Linked DNA regions of Homo sapiens: region 2 is linked to region 1. The links come from fine-mapping of genetic effects on gene expression. Tissue or cell type: whole blood. Region 1 holds a variant in brackets; the other region holds the start of a gene. All regions are shown on one strand. Distances are from middle to middle.

Region 1 (7,785 bases):
CTCTGTCACCCAGGCTCGAGTGCGGTGGCACAATCAAAGTTCACAGCAGCCTTGAACTCCTGGGCTCAAGTGATCCTTCTGCCTCATCCTCCTGAGCAGATGGGAGTACAGGTGTGTGCCATCATGCCTGGCTAATTCAATTTTTTTTTTTTTTCCTCCTAGAGACAGGCTCTCCTGTGTTGCCCAGGCTCATCTCAAACTCCTGGCTTCAAGCTGTCCTCCTACCTTGGCCTCCCAAAGTGCTGGGATTACAGGCATGAGCCACTGTGCCTGGCCTGATCCCAGTTATTTAATTAATAAATCGAGTGAATTATATTACCTAAGATGTCTTCTAGCCCTGAGTTTGTGTAATTCTGTTTTAGTCTTTTTTGTTGATTAGTCTTCCTGAATACCCCTGTCTGTGCTGGAATGCTGCAGTGCTCTCCAACCTGCTTGAAGTGCATGAGTGTTTTATCTCCAAATAGCCTACCTTGCTGTGCTTTTATCATTCTTTCCGTGCTTTTATAGTTCTGCTGTGATCTTTGCAGGCAAGTGTTATTTCCACAGCTTTCAGGTGTCTGTGGGTGGCTTCTGATCTACTGGCCTATTTTGCCTAAATTTGTCAGCAAGACTTAGATATTCTTTGCATCTGAAGGTAAAATACAGAATTTAGAACAGCTTATTTCGTCAAAGCTACTTGGAAATCCTTGTGTATTTTTTCTGATTTATAAAAGTAATATGTAAATAATACATATCATTTTAGATAGTGTTAAAAAAGTAGGAAAGTATAAAGCAAACAAAAATTACCTTTTGTTCAACCATCCAGAGATAAACTCACTAAGTACTGGGTTTTTCCACCATTTAAAAATTTTTGTATTTTCCCTTTTTCTCTTCTTCTTATTAGCATTTTGAAATGCCCACTTTTTTTCCATCGTGAGAAAATAAATACATAAGATTCCTTCCCATAATCCCAGCCTTCTGGTATCTTGTGTTAGCGTCCCTTTCAGAGCTATTGAAAGAATACTGCTTTCTTCTTTCAGGTTGGCTTCTACCCTCACTAGGGTCCCAAAACTTTCAAGATCACTAATGACTGCACTACTGGCAAATTTGGTGGATGTTTTCAGTAGTTACCTCACTTTTCTCCCAGCAGCAATTGATTCCCTCTCAAAACACTCTTCCACAGGCTTCTACCATAACTTTCTCTTCCCTGGTTTTCCTTAAGTTTTTTTGGCCACTCTTCAGGATACCCTAGGCTACACCTTCCTGCAAAAAATCATTCGCTTTCCTGGTTTCAGTAACTCCCAAATCTGTATCTCTGGCTCAGATTTTCTCTGAGTTCCAGGTTTATCTCAGCTAGATAGTGGACTTAACTGTTCCACCAATAAACTCAACATGTCCAGATACAAATTTATCTTATCTCTTTTTAAAACTTCCACTGTCATTCTTGGCTGAAAGCCAGTGTCATCTTTAATTCCTCCATCTGCCTCACCTCTTCCTGTGAGTCCTTACCAGGGCTGTGTGTTCTCTGCCGAATCTCTCTTGAACCATTGTTCTCCTTTGCCAGTGCCACTGCCATAGTCCATGGCAACACTTTTATTGGGGCCACCTGTAAAGGACTTCTATCTGGTCTCCTGGCGGTTTTGTTTTCTTTTTTGTTTAAATCAATTTTCCACCCTGGATTTAGAGTGATCTTTCAAAAATAAGTTTAATCATTGTTACCTTTTTTTTTTTCTTTTGAGACGGAGTTTCACTCTGTCGCCCAGGCTGGAGTGCAGTGGTACAATCTCAGCTCACTGTAGCTGTTAGGAATCTGCATTTTATTTATTTATTTAGTTAGTTTTGAGGCAGAGTTTCTCTCTGTCGCCCAGGCTGGAGTGTAGTGGCATGATCTTGGCTCACTACAACTTCCGTCTCTCCGGTTCAAGCGATTCTCCTGCCTCAGCCTCACGAGTAGCTGGGATTACAGGTACCAGGCCATTATGCCTGGCTAATTTTTGTATTTTTAGTAGAGATGGGGTTTCACCATGTTAGCCCAGGCTGGCCTCAAACTCCTGACCTCAGGTGATCCGCCCGCCTGGGCCTCCCAAAGTGCTGGAATTACAGGCATGAGCCACCGCACCTGGCTCATTGTCACCTTTTTAATAGATCCTTTTGCCTATACAATGCGTTATAAATGTCTTGCCTTGTGTTTCAAGTCCTTAATGAAACTCATCCTTGAGTAGCTGTTAGTCTTCACCACTCTCCCACAGCTCCTTCCCCTTCATTCCTGTGGTTTTTTTTTTTTTTTTTGCAGGTATATGGGAGAATGATATTTCTGTCTTCCAAGCCTTGATTTTTCCTTTGCTGAGCTTAGTGCATTCCTCCTGGCTCCACTTACTGTTTGCTAAACCAGGTCTTATCATCCTTCAGGTTTTCTTCAGCTTAGTTGGTCGTTTCCTTTTCCCTTTCCTGGCCTAGATTCTCCTGGTGCAGTCACTCTGTTTGAGTAGCATCATACATAACAGCTTTTCTCCTTCGTGGCAGTTCTCACACTTTTTGGTCTCAGGACTCTTTTGCACTCTTTTAACATTATTTAGGATTCTAGGGAGCTATTGTTTATGTGGGTGATATCTACAATATTTATTGGATTAGAAATGAAGGCTGAGAAATGAAGAAAAAATTATTTTAAAATTACAATGATAAATTATAATTTTACATGTTAAGATGACATGTTAGCATAGTTATTTTTCACGAAAATCTTATTTTTCAAACCAGAAAAAAGCGAAAAGAATTGCATTGCTTTTCATTTTTTAAATGTCTGAATTAATAAAATATACCTGAATTCTCATGTCTGCCTCTACATTCAATCTGTTGTGATGTTAGACTTCATGTAGCCCCGGGAAAACTCCGCTATACCCTTGTGGGAGGATGAAAATGAACAAAACAAATGTTTTTGTATTATTGAGAAGATAGTTTTGACCTTGTACCTTCCCTGAAAAGGTCTCAGGAACCCCTCGGTGTCTCTGGACTGCACTTTGAGAACCACTGCTTTATGGCAGTGACTTCTTATTTGCCTCTTTCCCTCTGACTATGTACTGTGAGAGTAGGACCCAGATCCACCTTGCTCACTTCTGTGTCCCTGGTACCTGGGACATTGTTCTTTATGTAAAAGGTTCGCAGATATCTGTTGATTCACTTATTCAATCAGTTACTCGGTTGGTTTGGTTCTCAAGAAATTGACACCAGGCACTAGAGACTCAGTCCATGTAAGTATAAGAAAATTGTAGCCTGTGGGCATTTCTTCTACCAATTTCTCTGGGGCACTTGGGTCTAATATTTTTCATGTAACATCACAAGAGTATAATTCTCATTTTACCTTAGTTAATATTGAGGTAAAAGGAAGCATATAAATTAGTTTTTGTCATGGATTTTTGAATTAAGATGTACATATGTGGAATGATATGAATAAATGTCAACTATGTAATATTGCCTCACATTTGAAAAGTCTACTTGACTTGAAGGCATGAAAATGCATTGT[C/T]ATGTTTATTTGTTGTCAAGGAAGTAGTAGTATAGTAAAATACACAGGAAATATTTATTCTTTGGGAATGATAGAGGAAAGAAAAAAGTAAAATAAAAATTAAGTACAAAAAGTTTTTTTAATTAAAAAATTTATTCTGGAAAGGTCATTAGGTAACAAATAGGAGACTTTAGTCTATGTTAAATGCTTTCTGGAAAAACTGACCACTTATTCAGTGTGGAATTGAAACGTACGTTTAAAATGGTGGTGAAGCAGGAAAAAAAGAAATAGCATGAGGCATAGCTTATTAATTATGTGTTGTCTGGTTTCCATGAAAGCCTTAATTAGAACGAAAAGGAAAAGATGTGCTTATTATTACAACTACCAAGTTCAGCATTTATGACCTGTCATTATAAAACAGATCACCATGCTGTCTGACCCACCCTTGAAAATCGTGAAGTGCAAACACACTAATTATGTTCCTACTGAAATTCAGGTTCTTAACTTCAGGCTTCAGCTTAACCTGCTTTAGAGCACGCATACTTTTTGCCACGATAATACTCATAGGACTAGAAACAACTAGGAGATGTTATTTTATTTTTTAAATCAGACTGAACTTCAGGCAGATTTCCTTATATTGTAAATTAGTGGCTTATTTATATGACCTTTATAGGGCATCTAATGATAGTGGGTTTTTTTTTCTTTTTTTTTTTGAGATGGAGTTTCGCTCTTGTTGCCCAGGCTGGAGTGCAATGGTGCGATCTCAGCTCACCGCAACCTCCACCTCCCAGGTTCAAGCAGTTCTCCTGCCTCAGCCTCCAGAGTAGTTGGGATTACAGGCATATGCCACCATGCCTGGCTAATTTTGTATTTTTAGTAGAGATGGGATTTCTCCATGTCGGTCAGGCTGGTCTCAAGCTCCTGACCTGAGGTGATCCGCCCACCTTGGCCTCCCAAAGTGCTGAGATTATAGGCGTGAGCCACTGCGCGCATCTGTGTTACTTATTTGATGTATTTTGGTGACATTTTGAATGGGGGCAAATGAGAAAAGGGCTCTGGCACTAAGCATTTATTAGATAACTCTTTTACAGGACAGTGTTTGGTAGTGAAGTTACTCTGCCCATGGCAGTGTGGCCATGCTGCAGCTTGACACCACTCCCTGTAATAGAGAATGGATTGTGCTGTGATTTTAACATTTCCCTTAAGAAAAGGGTGTTAGGTTATGATAAAACTTTTATACTGTCTTTGTGAGGTTTTGGTGAGTTAGTAAGTAGGCTTCCCTATCATTAAGAAAAAGTCTTTAAATCTTTGTTTCTACTTGCAGAACATTTATTCCTTCTTTGTAAGAAGAACCAGGATAATTTGTTCATTTGTATAGTTGATCCTTGAACAGCTTGGAAGTTCGGGGCACTGACCCCCATGCAGTTGAAAGTCCACATATAACTTTTTGACTCCCCAAAAACTTGTCTGAGAGTTTCCTGTTGTCTGAAAGCCTTACTGATAGCATAAATAGGTGATTAACACATGTTTTGTATGTTATATGTATTATATATTGTATTCATGCAATAAAGTAGGCTAGAGAAAAAATAAGGAAGAGAAAATACATTTATGGTATGGTATTGTATTTATTGATATTGTAAGTTTACATCATCTGTTTACAAGATGATGTATGTCAGTCCGAAATGGTAGGTAACCACAGCTGCAGACCTCAATCTACAGTACATTTCAAGTAGTTCAACTTTTTCCTGTAATGTCATTACTTTTCTCTGCTTCTTGGGAGCACTTCCAGCATTACTAGTGGCACTTCGTATGGGTCCCATGGTGTTATTCAAGTTTTATGGTTATTACAGTAAACATGACTTGCTTACTGTGTATGTTATTGGTATCACAGGGTGTTATAAGTGGATAATTGTAGTGTCTGAGCCCAGTGTAATAGCAATAGGAGGTGACTTCAGAATTATTACGGCAGTACAGTATATACCGCAGTTAATTTTATGTAGTTGTGATTTGATATATCTTTATGTTTGCTTACAATTCTCTCAAATTTGAATGATGCTATTTATGTTCTGTGTGTGTGTTAGTTTTGATAAATTTTATCTTTTTAAAATTTGTATATGTTTTATGGTAGTAAATGACAAAATAGACTAGTATTCACTTTTTTTTTTTTTTTTTTTTTTTTTCCTGAGACGGAGTTTCACTCCGTCGCCCAGGCTGGAGTAGTGCAGGGGCGCGATCTCGACTCACTACATCCTCCGCCTCCTGGGTTTAAGCAGTTCTCCTGCCTCAGCCTCCCAAGTAGCTGAGATTACAGGCGCCCACCACCACGCCTGGCTAATTTTTTGTGTACTTTTAGTAGAGATGAGGTTTCACCATTTTGGCCAGGCCGATCTTGACGCCTGACCTCGTGATCCACCCACCCGTCTTGGCCTCCCAAAGTGCTGGAATTTACAGTTGTGAGCTACCGTGCCCGGCCAGTATTTACATGTTTTACACATTTATGCCGTATCTTTCTCTTAAATTTTTTTGATATTTCTAGGCTATGGTAGTTCATCTGTGAGGTTTTTTTTAATTGTTCCAAATGTTCAAAAATGTTTTCAATATATTTATTGAAAGAAAATCCAGGTATAAGTGGACTCATGCAGTTCAAATCCATGTTGTTCAAGGGCCAACTGTGTTTTATACATGTGATTTAACTATTACTTGTTTATTAACAAAGTGACACTGTAAACTCATGTCTGTGGCAGTATTTAAATTTTATGTGCCCCAAACCTTGGCATATTATGGGATGAAATATTTTACTCCTTTTCTTCCTTTTAGCACAACATTCTGAAATTTTTTGGTTATTGTAATGATGTTGATCGGGAGTTGAGAAAATGCCTGAAGAATGAGGTAAGAAAAGTGTCAAAGGATGGATATGGTTGAACAATAGAACAGAACATTTTTGAATATTGTGTATTACTGCCATTATTGAATTTTTCCCACATTTTAGTGTAACAGAAAATTGACTTTACATGTATGAACTTCCTCTGTTTAGGGGAAGAAATGAAAGCTTTTCTGGGGACAGTTTTAGAACATGGCTTTTTGGCCATGAACACAAATGAGGAAAACAACTTCCTTATGATGATTACTGTAGGTCATCTGGATGAATTTAATGGTTTAGGAAGTTGTATCTCTGGCCGGCAGAAAGACTTATATCAGTCACCTATTAGCTGATTGGTAGGTAACTAAAACTCTCAGGGCCTCAATTTCTATATATAAATTGAGGAGGCTAGAATTAGGCTGTTTTCAGCTTTAACATTTTGAATTTCTTTGTAGTTATGGTTTGTGTAAGCCACAGGGATCTAATTTGACTTGTTTTGGAACACTGTCATCTCCTGAACTTGATTTTAGGGCACAACTTGGACTTGGGCAAATAGCCACAGTACACAGTTCATTGTCTTTTTCCAGGCACTGCCAAATAAGCAGAGTGCATTTTAAACCTTTGAAAAGAAATTTGATTCAATTTCTGTTTCATACATCAGATTTTTTGTGTCCAGAACTTTTAAAAATATATGATGGCTAAAATTTTGCCTTTCAGATATCATTTTTGTTATTTTTGAACTTTTTTTTTTTTTTGCCTCATATTGAAAGATTTAAATATAATATTTGAAGTTGTCCAACATCTTTCTTTTGATTTTGTTTTCTGCTTAGGCTGTTTTTCCCTTCCTGGATTCCCTTTAAATTGTGACATTCACCTTTACTGTTTGAAGAACTTTTTGGAGTACTCAGTGAAGAGTAATAGTTTGTTTCTTTTTTTCTTTTTTCTTTTGAGACAGGTTCTTGCTCTGTCACCTAAGCTGGAGTGCAGTAGGGTGATCGTAACTCACGGAAGCCTCAAACTCAAGTGATCCTCCCACCTCAGCCTCCTGAGTAGCTAGGACGACAGGTGCGTACCACCATGCCTGGTTAAGGTTTTACACATTTTTTTGTAGAGATGAGAGTCTCACTGTTTTGGCCAGGCTGGTCTCAAACTGCTAACCTCAAGCAGTCCTCCCACCTTGGCCTCCCAAAGTGCTGGGACTACAGACATGAGTCACCATTCCCAGCCTTATTAGTGTTTTTAAATTATTTACTAAAAATGTTTGTCCTTTATATGAAAAAGCCAGTTTACATGAAAAATACACCTAGGGTGAGTCCTCCCACCTTGGCCTCCCAAAGTGCTGGGACTACAGACATGAGTCACCATTCCCAGCCTTATTAGTGTTTTTAAATTATTTACTAAAAATGTTTGTCCTTTATATGAAAAAGCCAGTTTACATGAAAAATACACC
Region 2 (6,377 bases), 24 kb before region 1:
GCTTGGGGCCTTCGAGGAACAGGGAAGGGTGGCCTCCAGTCAGGGGACAGCAGAGACAGGAAGGAGGCATAGAGAAGGAGGTGAGGTCAGTCATCATGGAGGGCCTTGAAAGGCACTGCGGGGATCACTGCTGTTTTCACTCTGCAAGGTGCTGAGCACAGGCAGGACATGCTCTTGTTTAGCTTTTCTACCAGGATCAATCTCGCTACTGTACTGAGAACGCAGTGTAAGGAGGCGAGGGCAGAGGTTGGAGGTTAGTGAGGCAGGGGAAGAGGTCAGGTTCTGGATACACTTTTAAGAGGGAACTCACGGGGTTTCCAGATGGATTACATGTGGGGTGTTAGATCAAGAAAAGAACCAAAGATGAAACCAAGGTTTTTACCAGGGAACTAAAAGACAAAGTTACTATTAGCTGAGACGGCCAAGACTGCGAGAGAGGCAGGAGAAAGCTCAAGAATTCTGTAATTCTGTTCTGAATCTGTTAATATTAAGATAAAGATGAGAGTCCAAATGGAGATACCGAATAAACAGCTGGATCTGTGACTCCACAGGACATGCTAAGAGCTAGTGGTGCAGTGGATTGCTGTCTCTTAGTCCTTTAATGCACCGCCTGTGAACAAAGAGCTCTTTCCTCCCTCACTTCTCCTGCCCATGCCTGAGGGTGAGATTCCTTAATTGTCTATAAGGTCCTGAGCCCCAAATCTGGTGTGCCTCCCTTATCAATAGGCAAGGGATATAATCTCCAGAAGAATGACCTAGCGGCTGCAGGAATAAGGAAGGAAGATTCTGAGCTCTTTTATCATTTTCCTTTGGCAGAAGTTGTGAGCCAATGGTGACAGCTGATCTCACGTCTGCTACTTTATTTGGGGACACCAGTGAGCATCTCTCTCTCTCTCTTCAAATACAGAACAAAAAAGCAAGCAAACATGATATTTATTTATTTTTTTCATTTGAGATAGAGTCTCACTCTGTCGCCCGGGCTGGAGTGCAGTGGTGCAACCTCGGCTCACTGCAACCTCCCCTGCCTGGTTCAAGTGATTCTCCTGCCTCAGCCTCCCAGGTAGCTAGGACTGCAGGCGTGCACCACCACGCCTGGCTAATTTTTGTATCTTTAGTAGAGACATGGTTTCACCATGTTGCCCAGGCTGGTCTCGAACTCCTGACCTCAAGTGATCTGCCCTCCTCGGCCTCCTGAAGTGCTGGGATTACAGGTGTGAGCCACCGCGCGTGGTCTGCAAACATGATTTTTATACAATGCAGGGTACCACCCGCATACTTTAATGTCCCTTAACAGTGTGTCTTCTAGGAAGGCACACACAGACCTTGGCATCTGTGTTTAAGACAAGCCTGTCAGTCATCTGTTTCCTTCACAACTGTGGGAATTCCAGGGACAAAGAAGTATCTTCCTACAAGAGTCCTGGCTGTGACTTATTTGTTGAACACTGAAAAATTATCCTTGTCCACTTCTGAAAAGAAATAGTTGACTGTATTTTAACAATATACTGAAAATGATAGTAAGACAAAGATAAAGAGGAAGGATTAGGAGTCATTTAGAAATAGAAAAATAACTGAATTAAGGTCGTAGGAACAGAATCAGGATCATGAAACAGGAGTCGGATTTGTTTCTTTGTGTAGTTACTGGACCATCTAAAGCCTTCACCATGGTCTACAAGGCCCCGTGTTGCGTGGCCCCTGCTTCCCTCTCCTTGGTTTTCTGAGCTCCAACTACACTAGTCTCTTAAATAATCTCTAGAGAAGGACCATTGTGCCTGCAGTTACAACTGCCTAGAAGGTTCTTCCTGCACATGTTCTCTCCAGTGACTTCTTGCAATTCTGGTGTTAGCTTAGATGGTTTCTCCTCAGACTTATCCTGACCACCCAACCAAAAGTTACTTCCCCACTCTCCACTGCTAATTGTTTTTTTCCTTTTTTTTAGACGGAATCTTGCTGGGTCACCCACATTAGAGTGTAGTAGTGGGATTTCTGCTCACTGCAGCCTCCTGCAGCCTCTGCCTCCCAGATTCAAATGATTCTCCTGCCTCAGCCTCCCGAGTATCTGGGATTACAGGTGTGCACCATGACACCCAACTAATTTTTCTACTTTTAGTAAAGATGGGGTTTCACCATGTTGGTCAGGCTGGTCTTGAACTCCCAAGCTCAAGTGATCCTCCCGCCTCGGCCTCCCAAAGTACTGGGATTACAGGCGTGAGCCTCTGCACCAGGCCATCCACTGCTAATTGTCTTTACAGAACTATCTGAAATTATCTTTTTAACTTTTCTTGTTTCTAAAATTGAGCTCCAGGGCAGGACGATGTTTTTATTCACAGCTATACTCCTAGACCAGAACTGCCTCACTATAGTCAGTAAGTCTAATCAGGCCAAGAACAGTCTAATGTGTCTTTGATAAATACTTGTGGAATGAATGCCTGAGGAGACAACCTGGGTGGTTTGGGGTTCAACAGTCAGTGAAACATCAAATCAACACCTCTCCCATTAAGAACACGGGCGAGGGGCCGGGAGCGCGCCGGGCGTGGTGTATCACTTGAGGTCAGTCGTTCAAGACCACCCAGGCCAACATGGTGAAACTCCGTCTCTACTAGAAATACAAAAATTAGCCGGGTGTCGTGACGCACACCTCTAGTCCCAGCTACTCGGGAGGCTGAGGCAAGAGAACAGCCTGAATCCGGGAGGAGGAGGTTGCAGTGAGCCGAGAACGTGCCACTGCCCTCCAACATGGGCGACAAAGCAAGACTCCGTCTCAAAAAAACAAAAAACAAACAAAAAAACCCACAGACGAGGCTACCCGTTAAAATGAAGATTCCTGGGCCCTATCAAATTAAACTGTGAGGAGGGCGCACGGAGGGCTTGAGATTTAGCATCTTTTAAAAAGTACGTCAGATGATTTATTCCGGGTAAAGTTTGCAGAACGCCAGTCTAAAGAAATTTGGTAGAGCGCCCTCAGTCTCACCAATTAAGACGGAAATCCCTTTAGTAAACGTTTACCCCGTGACCATTTTTAAACTTTCCTTTTTTTGTTGTTTCGGAGACACAGTCTCGCTTTGTCGCCCAGGGTGCAGTGCAGTGGCGCGATCTCGGGTCACTGCAACCTCCGCCTCCCGGGTTCATGCGCTTCTCCTGCCTCAGCCTCCCAAATAGCTGGGATTACAGGCACCCGATACCACGTCCGGTTAATTTTTGTATTTTTAGTAGAGACGGGGTTTCACCATGTTGGCCAGGCTGGTCTCGAACTCCTGACCTAAGGTGATCCGCCCACGTCGGTCTCCCAAAGTGTTGGGATTACAGGCGTAAACTACCGCGCCTGGCCCCATTTTAAAACTTTCTTTATACTTCCTAGCGTTTTAGTGTCTGACATACAGTAGATGCTCAAGATCTGTGGAACGCATGATCAAAAAGATCCATTTTAAGTAACGTTCCCGTAGCCACACACCTCTGCTGCGCTCCAACAGGCAATGCGAGGAGCAACGCAAGAGGGTACAGGGACAAAAAACGACGGAAGCCGAGGTGACAGAAAAGCAAAACCCCAACTCTGGGAAAGGAAGCAACCCCAGGATCGTAGAGCGGAGCCCCTGGTCACATGACCACACGGCCCTCCCCTGACGCAGTCGCGAGCCTACGAAAGGCTCCACCCGCCCCACCGCGGGCGAGGTGACGTCACAGCCGGCACAGCGCCACCGCCCCCTCACCTCGGCCCGAACCGTAGTTCCTCGCCCCGAGCCCGAGACCCAGCGCCAATCCTGCGCCTCACAACGTGCGACAATTGCGAAAAAGCCACCCCCGAGGCCTGGGATCTGGCTTCCTCAAGGCCCCACACCCTCCGGGGCCCGATCCAGTGCCGCCCGGGGCTCTCTTACCGGCCCACATCTCCTGCAGTCTCACTCCTCAAGAGCTGTTCCCGCTCGCCGCGCCTTCAAAGCCACCAATTGCAGTTCCCGCCGCCTCCAAGCTCCGCCCACCGGAGCACAAGCATCAGGCTGTGTCTTGGGCACAGGGGACTGCACGGGGGAGCGACTGAAGCGAAGGTCGCCGAGCCCCCCACGCCGCTCTTCTTAGAAGTGTGCAACCTTGCACCAGTAGTGGACTTACACATAGGCTCCGTTAGGACCTGGCTTATGTGCTCGGCTTGTGGCTTAGACGCTGCCGTGCCCCAGTGGACTCACTGTGCCTCCCCCCACGACGGACGGAAATGGGCCCCTCCAGGACAGGCGGCGCATGCGCCTTGGGGCCCGCGGGCGGCGGGGGCGAGGAGCCGGGAGCACGGTGGAGCGGTGGAGGGCGTCACTGGGTTTCGGCGTCTGGCAAGCGGTTCAGCTGTCTGCTCCCTAGCAGCCGGCCTTCGGGTCGGGCGTCTCCGCCGGCTACTGCCGCTTCAGTTCTCCCGGTGTGGCCACGAGTCGGGTGAGTCTCGGGAGTCCAGGCCGTTCCGAACGCGTTCCGTTGTTCCTCCTCAGGTCCCTGATGGCGCGTCCCGCCGAGCCCCTTCCTGCCGCCCGTCGGCCCCAGGAGGTGGGGACCAGGAAGACCCGGCTGCCGCAGGCCCACAGCCGGGCTGCTGCGCTGGGGAGGCTGCGAGCGAGGTGGCTGGGCGCTCGCTGGAACACGCTGGTGGCCGAGACAGGCCGTGGGCGTCGCTCGGGGTTGGGATCCGCCCGCCACTCACTCAACTGGCTGGTGACCTTGGGCGCGCTCCTCCCCTCCCGGAGCCGGGGCTTCCTCGCCGGTAAAATGGACCTTGAGGAATGGAGCCCTCAACACAGGGTTTGACACGATGAGCGCCCAATAAAGTGTTGTTATTGTTGTTTATCTAGCAATTGAGAATTTGCGGGTAGAAAACGGGGGCCGTTCAAGCAAGTCTCAGCTGCAGTGCCCTGTGATGTGAGAACCCACCAAGAGCCCCATCAGTACACTTTACTCTTTTTTCTCCTTTAATGCTTTTTTTTTCCAGGAAAGTAATACATTCATCTTGCTTTTCTTGCGTTTAAAGATCAGGCGTTTTACGTAGAGTCTTAAGTAAATCAGTTTTGGAAGTCTTCATTTAAAACCTCAAAGGCATGGAAGTTTTCGATGGCAAAGGAATTATGTTGTGATGCCATTCGTATCTCCTCTCCTTTATATGTATGGCTTTTGCACTTGTTTAGTTGATTTAAAATGAGTTTCTTTTTCATCCTTTTCCTACTGCGTTGAGGCCTGAACTAGTTGTCAGTTTCTGACATTCCGCGAACATCGATTGGGCATTTACCATGTGCATTGGCAAGAATGCTCCCTCACGAGCCTGTGCGTTCCTTGAGATGTGTGAACGAGTATTTTCCTCTGAAATTCACATGATTCTGGCAGAGTGCTAGGCACCTTGTAAGTCCTGGTAATGTTTATTCAGGGAAAGCTGCGAGGGCGCATTCTCTGAGAAACTCTTCGGTGGAAGTCAGAGTAGTTAAGCCCTTCTCCCTAGGCAGCACCCCCGGGTCCCTCCCAGAAGCAGCCTGGCATGGGGTCTACAGTGCCAGCGCCAGTCGCTTTCTTAGTGGTATCGGTTTAGAACTGGTCCTGTGATAAGTGGAAGTGGGCAGGGGAGGCCGTCCCCGACCGTGTCTGCGACCTCTGCTGCAGTATGGCTCATAGCTTGAAAAGTTGAAAAATAATTCTTTAATACCAGGGCCGAAATGTAGGCCTTAAAAATGTTTTATGTTATTTATTTATATATATATATATTTAAATTTTATTTTGAGACGGCGTCTTGTTTTGTCGCCCAGGCTGGAGTGCAGTGGCGCGATCTCGGCTCACTGCAACCTCCACCTCCCGAGTTCTAGTGATTCTCGTGCCTCAACCTCCTGAGTAGCTAGGGTTACAGGCCACGCCTGGCTAATTTTTGTATTTTTAGTAGAGACGGGGATTCACCATGTTGGCCAGGCTTGTCCTGACCTCAAGTGATCTGCCTGCCTCGGCCTCCCGAAGTGGTGGGATTACAGGCGTGAGCCACCGCGCCTAGCCTAAAAAGATATATTTTAGAAAGCGGAGTGTTTACAGTTTTTTTTTCTGGAGAACAGTTTCTTCAGACTCTGCACAACAGACTTTTCTGGCCTTGTTTTTTGCTTATTTTGCAGTAGCATTAGAAATTACAACTGTAGTGTAAATTTCCTGTGCAGCCGCACAATAGGAAAATCTTTCTAAAGAAAAGCCAACTGGCATTAAAATACAGGGTTCTTCCTTGTGATTATAGATTTGCTGAAGTGAGTTATTAGAATGCTTACCCGTTTTCTTTATACTAGAGTTAATACAGCGCTGGCTCTTGGTTTATTTTCTAAAATTGTGCCACCTGGTGGTTGAAATCTGTCTTAGACTACTCTTGAGGAAAATTGTACCTC

What was found. PIP is the estimated chance that this variant, and not a neighbour inherited with it, causes the effect.
Region 2: it holds the start of CMC2, and the variant in region 1 is fine-mapped to the expression of CMC2 in whole blood (INTERVAL, PIP above 0.99).

The regions. Positions count from the first base shown.
Region 1 is chr16:80,980,385-80,988,169 of GRCh38, reverse strand. It overlaps CMC2 (C-X9-C motif containing 2), which reads left to right. Exons shown (of 4, transcript NM_020188.5): 3 at 6,293-6,364. Among named protein-coding and RNA genes, the nearest start is that of CMC2, 23 kb to the left of the region's middle. The variant C/T (reference allele first, on the strand shown) is at 3,497.
Region 2 is chr16:81,004,773-81,011,149 of GRCh38, reverse strand. CMC2 (C-X9-C motif containing 2) reads left to right here and starts at 4,265. Exons shown (of 4, transcript NM_020188.5): 1 at 4,265-4,416. CENPN (centromere protein N) reads right to left here and starts at 3,936. Exons shown (of 11, transcript NM_001100624.3): 1 at 3,873-3,936. RefSeq lists enhancers at 3,428-3,567, 3,878-3,987 and a silencer at 4,158-4,527.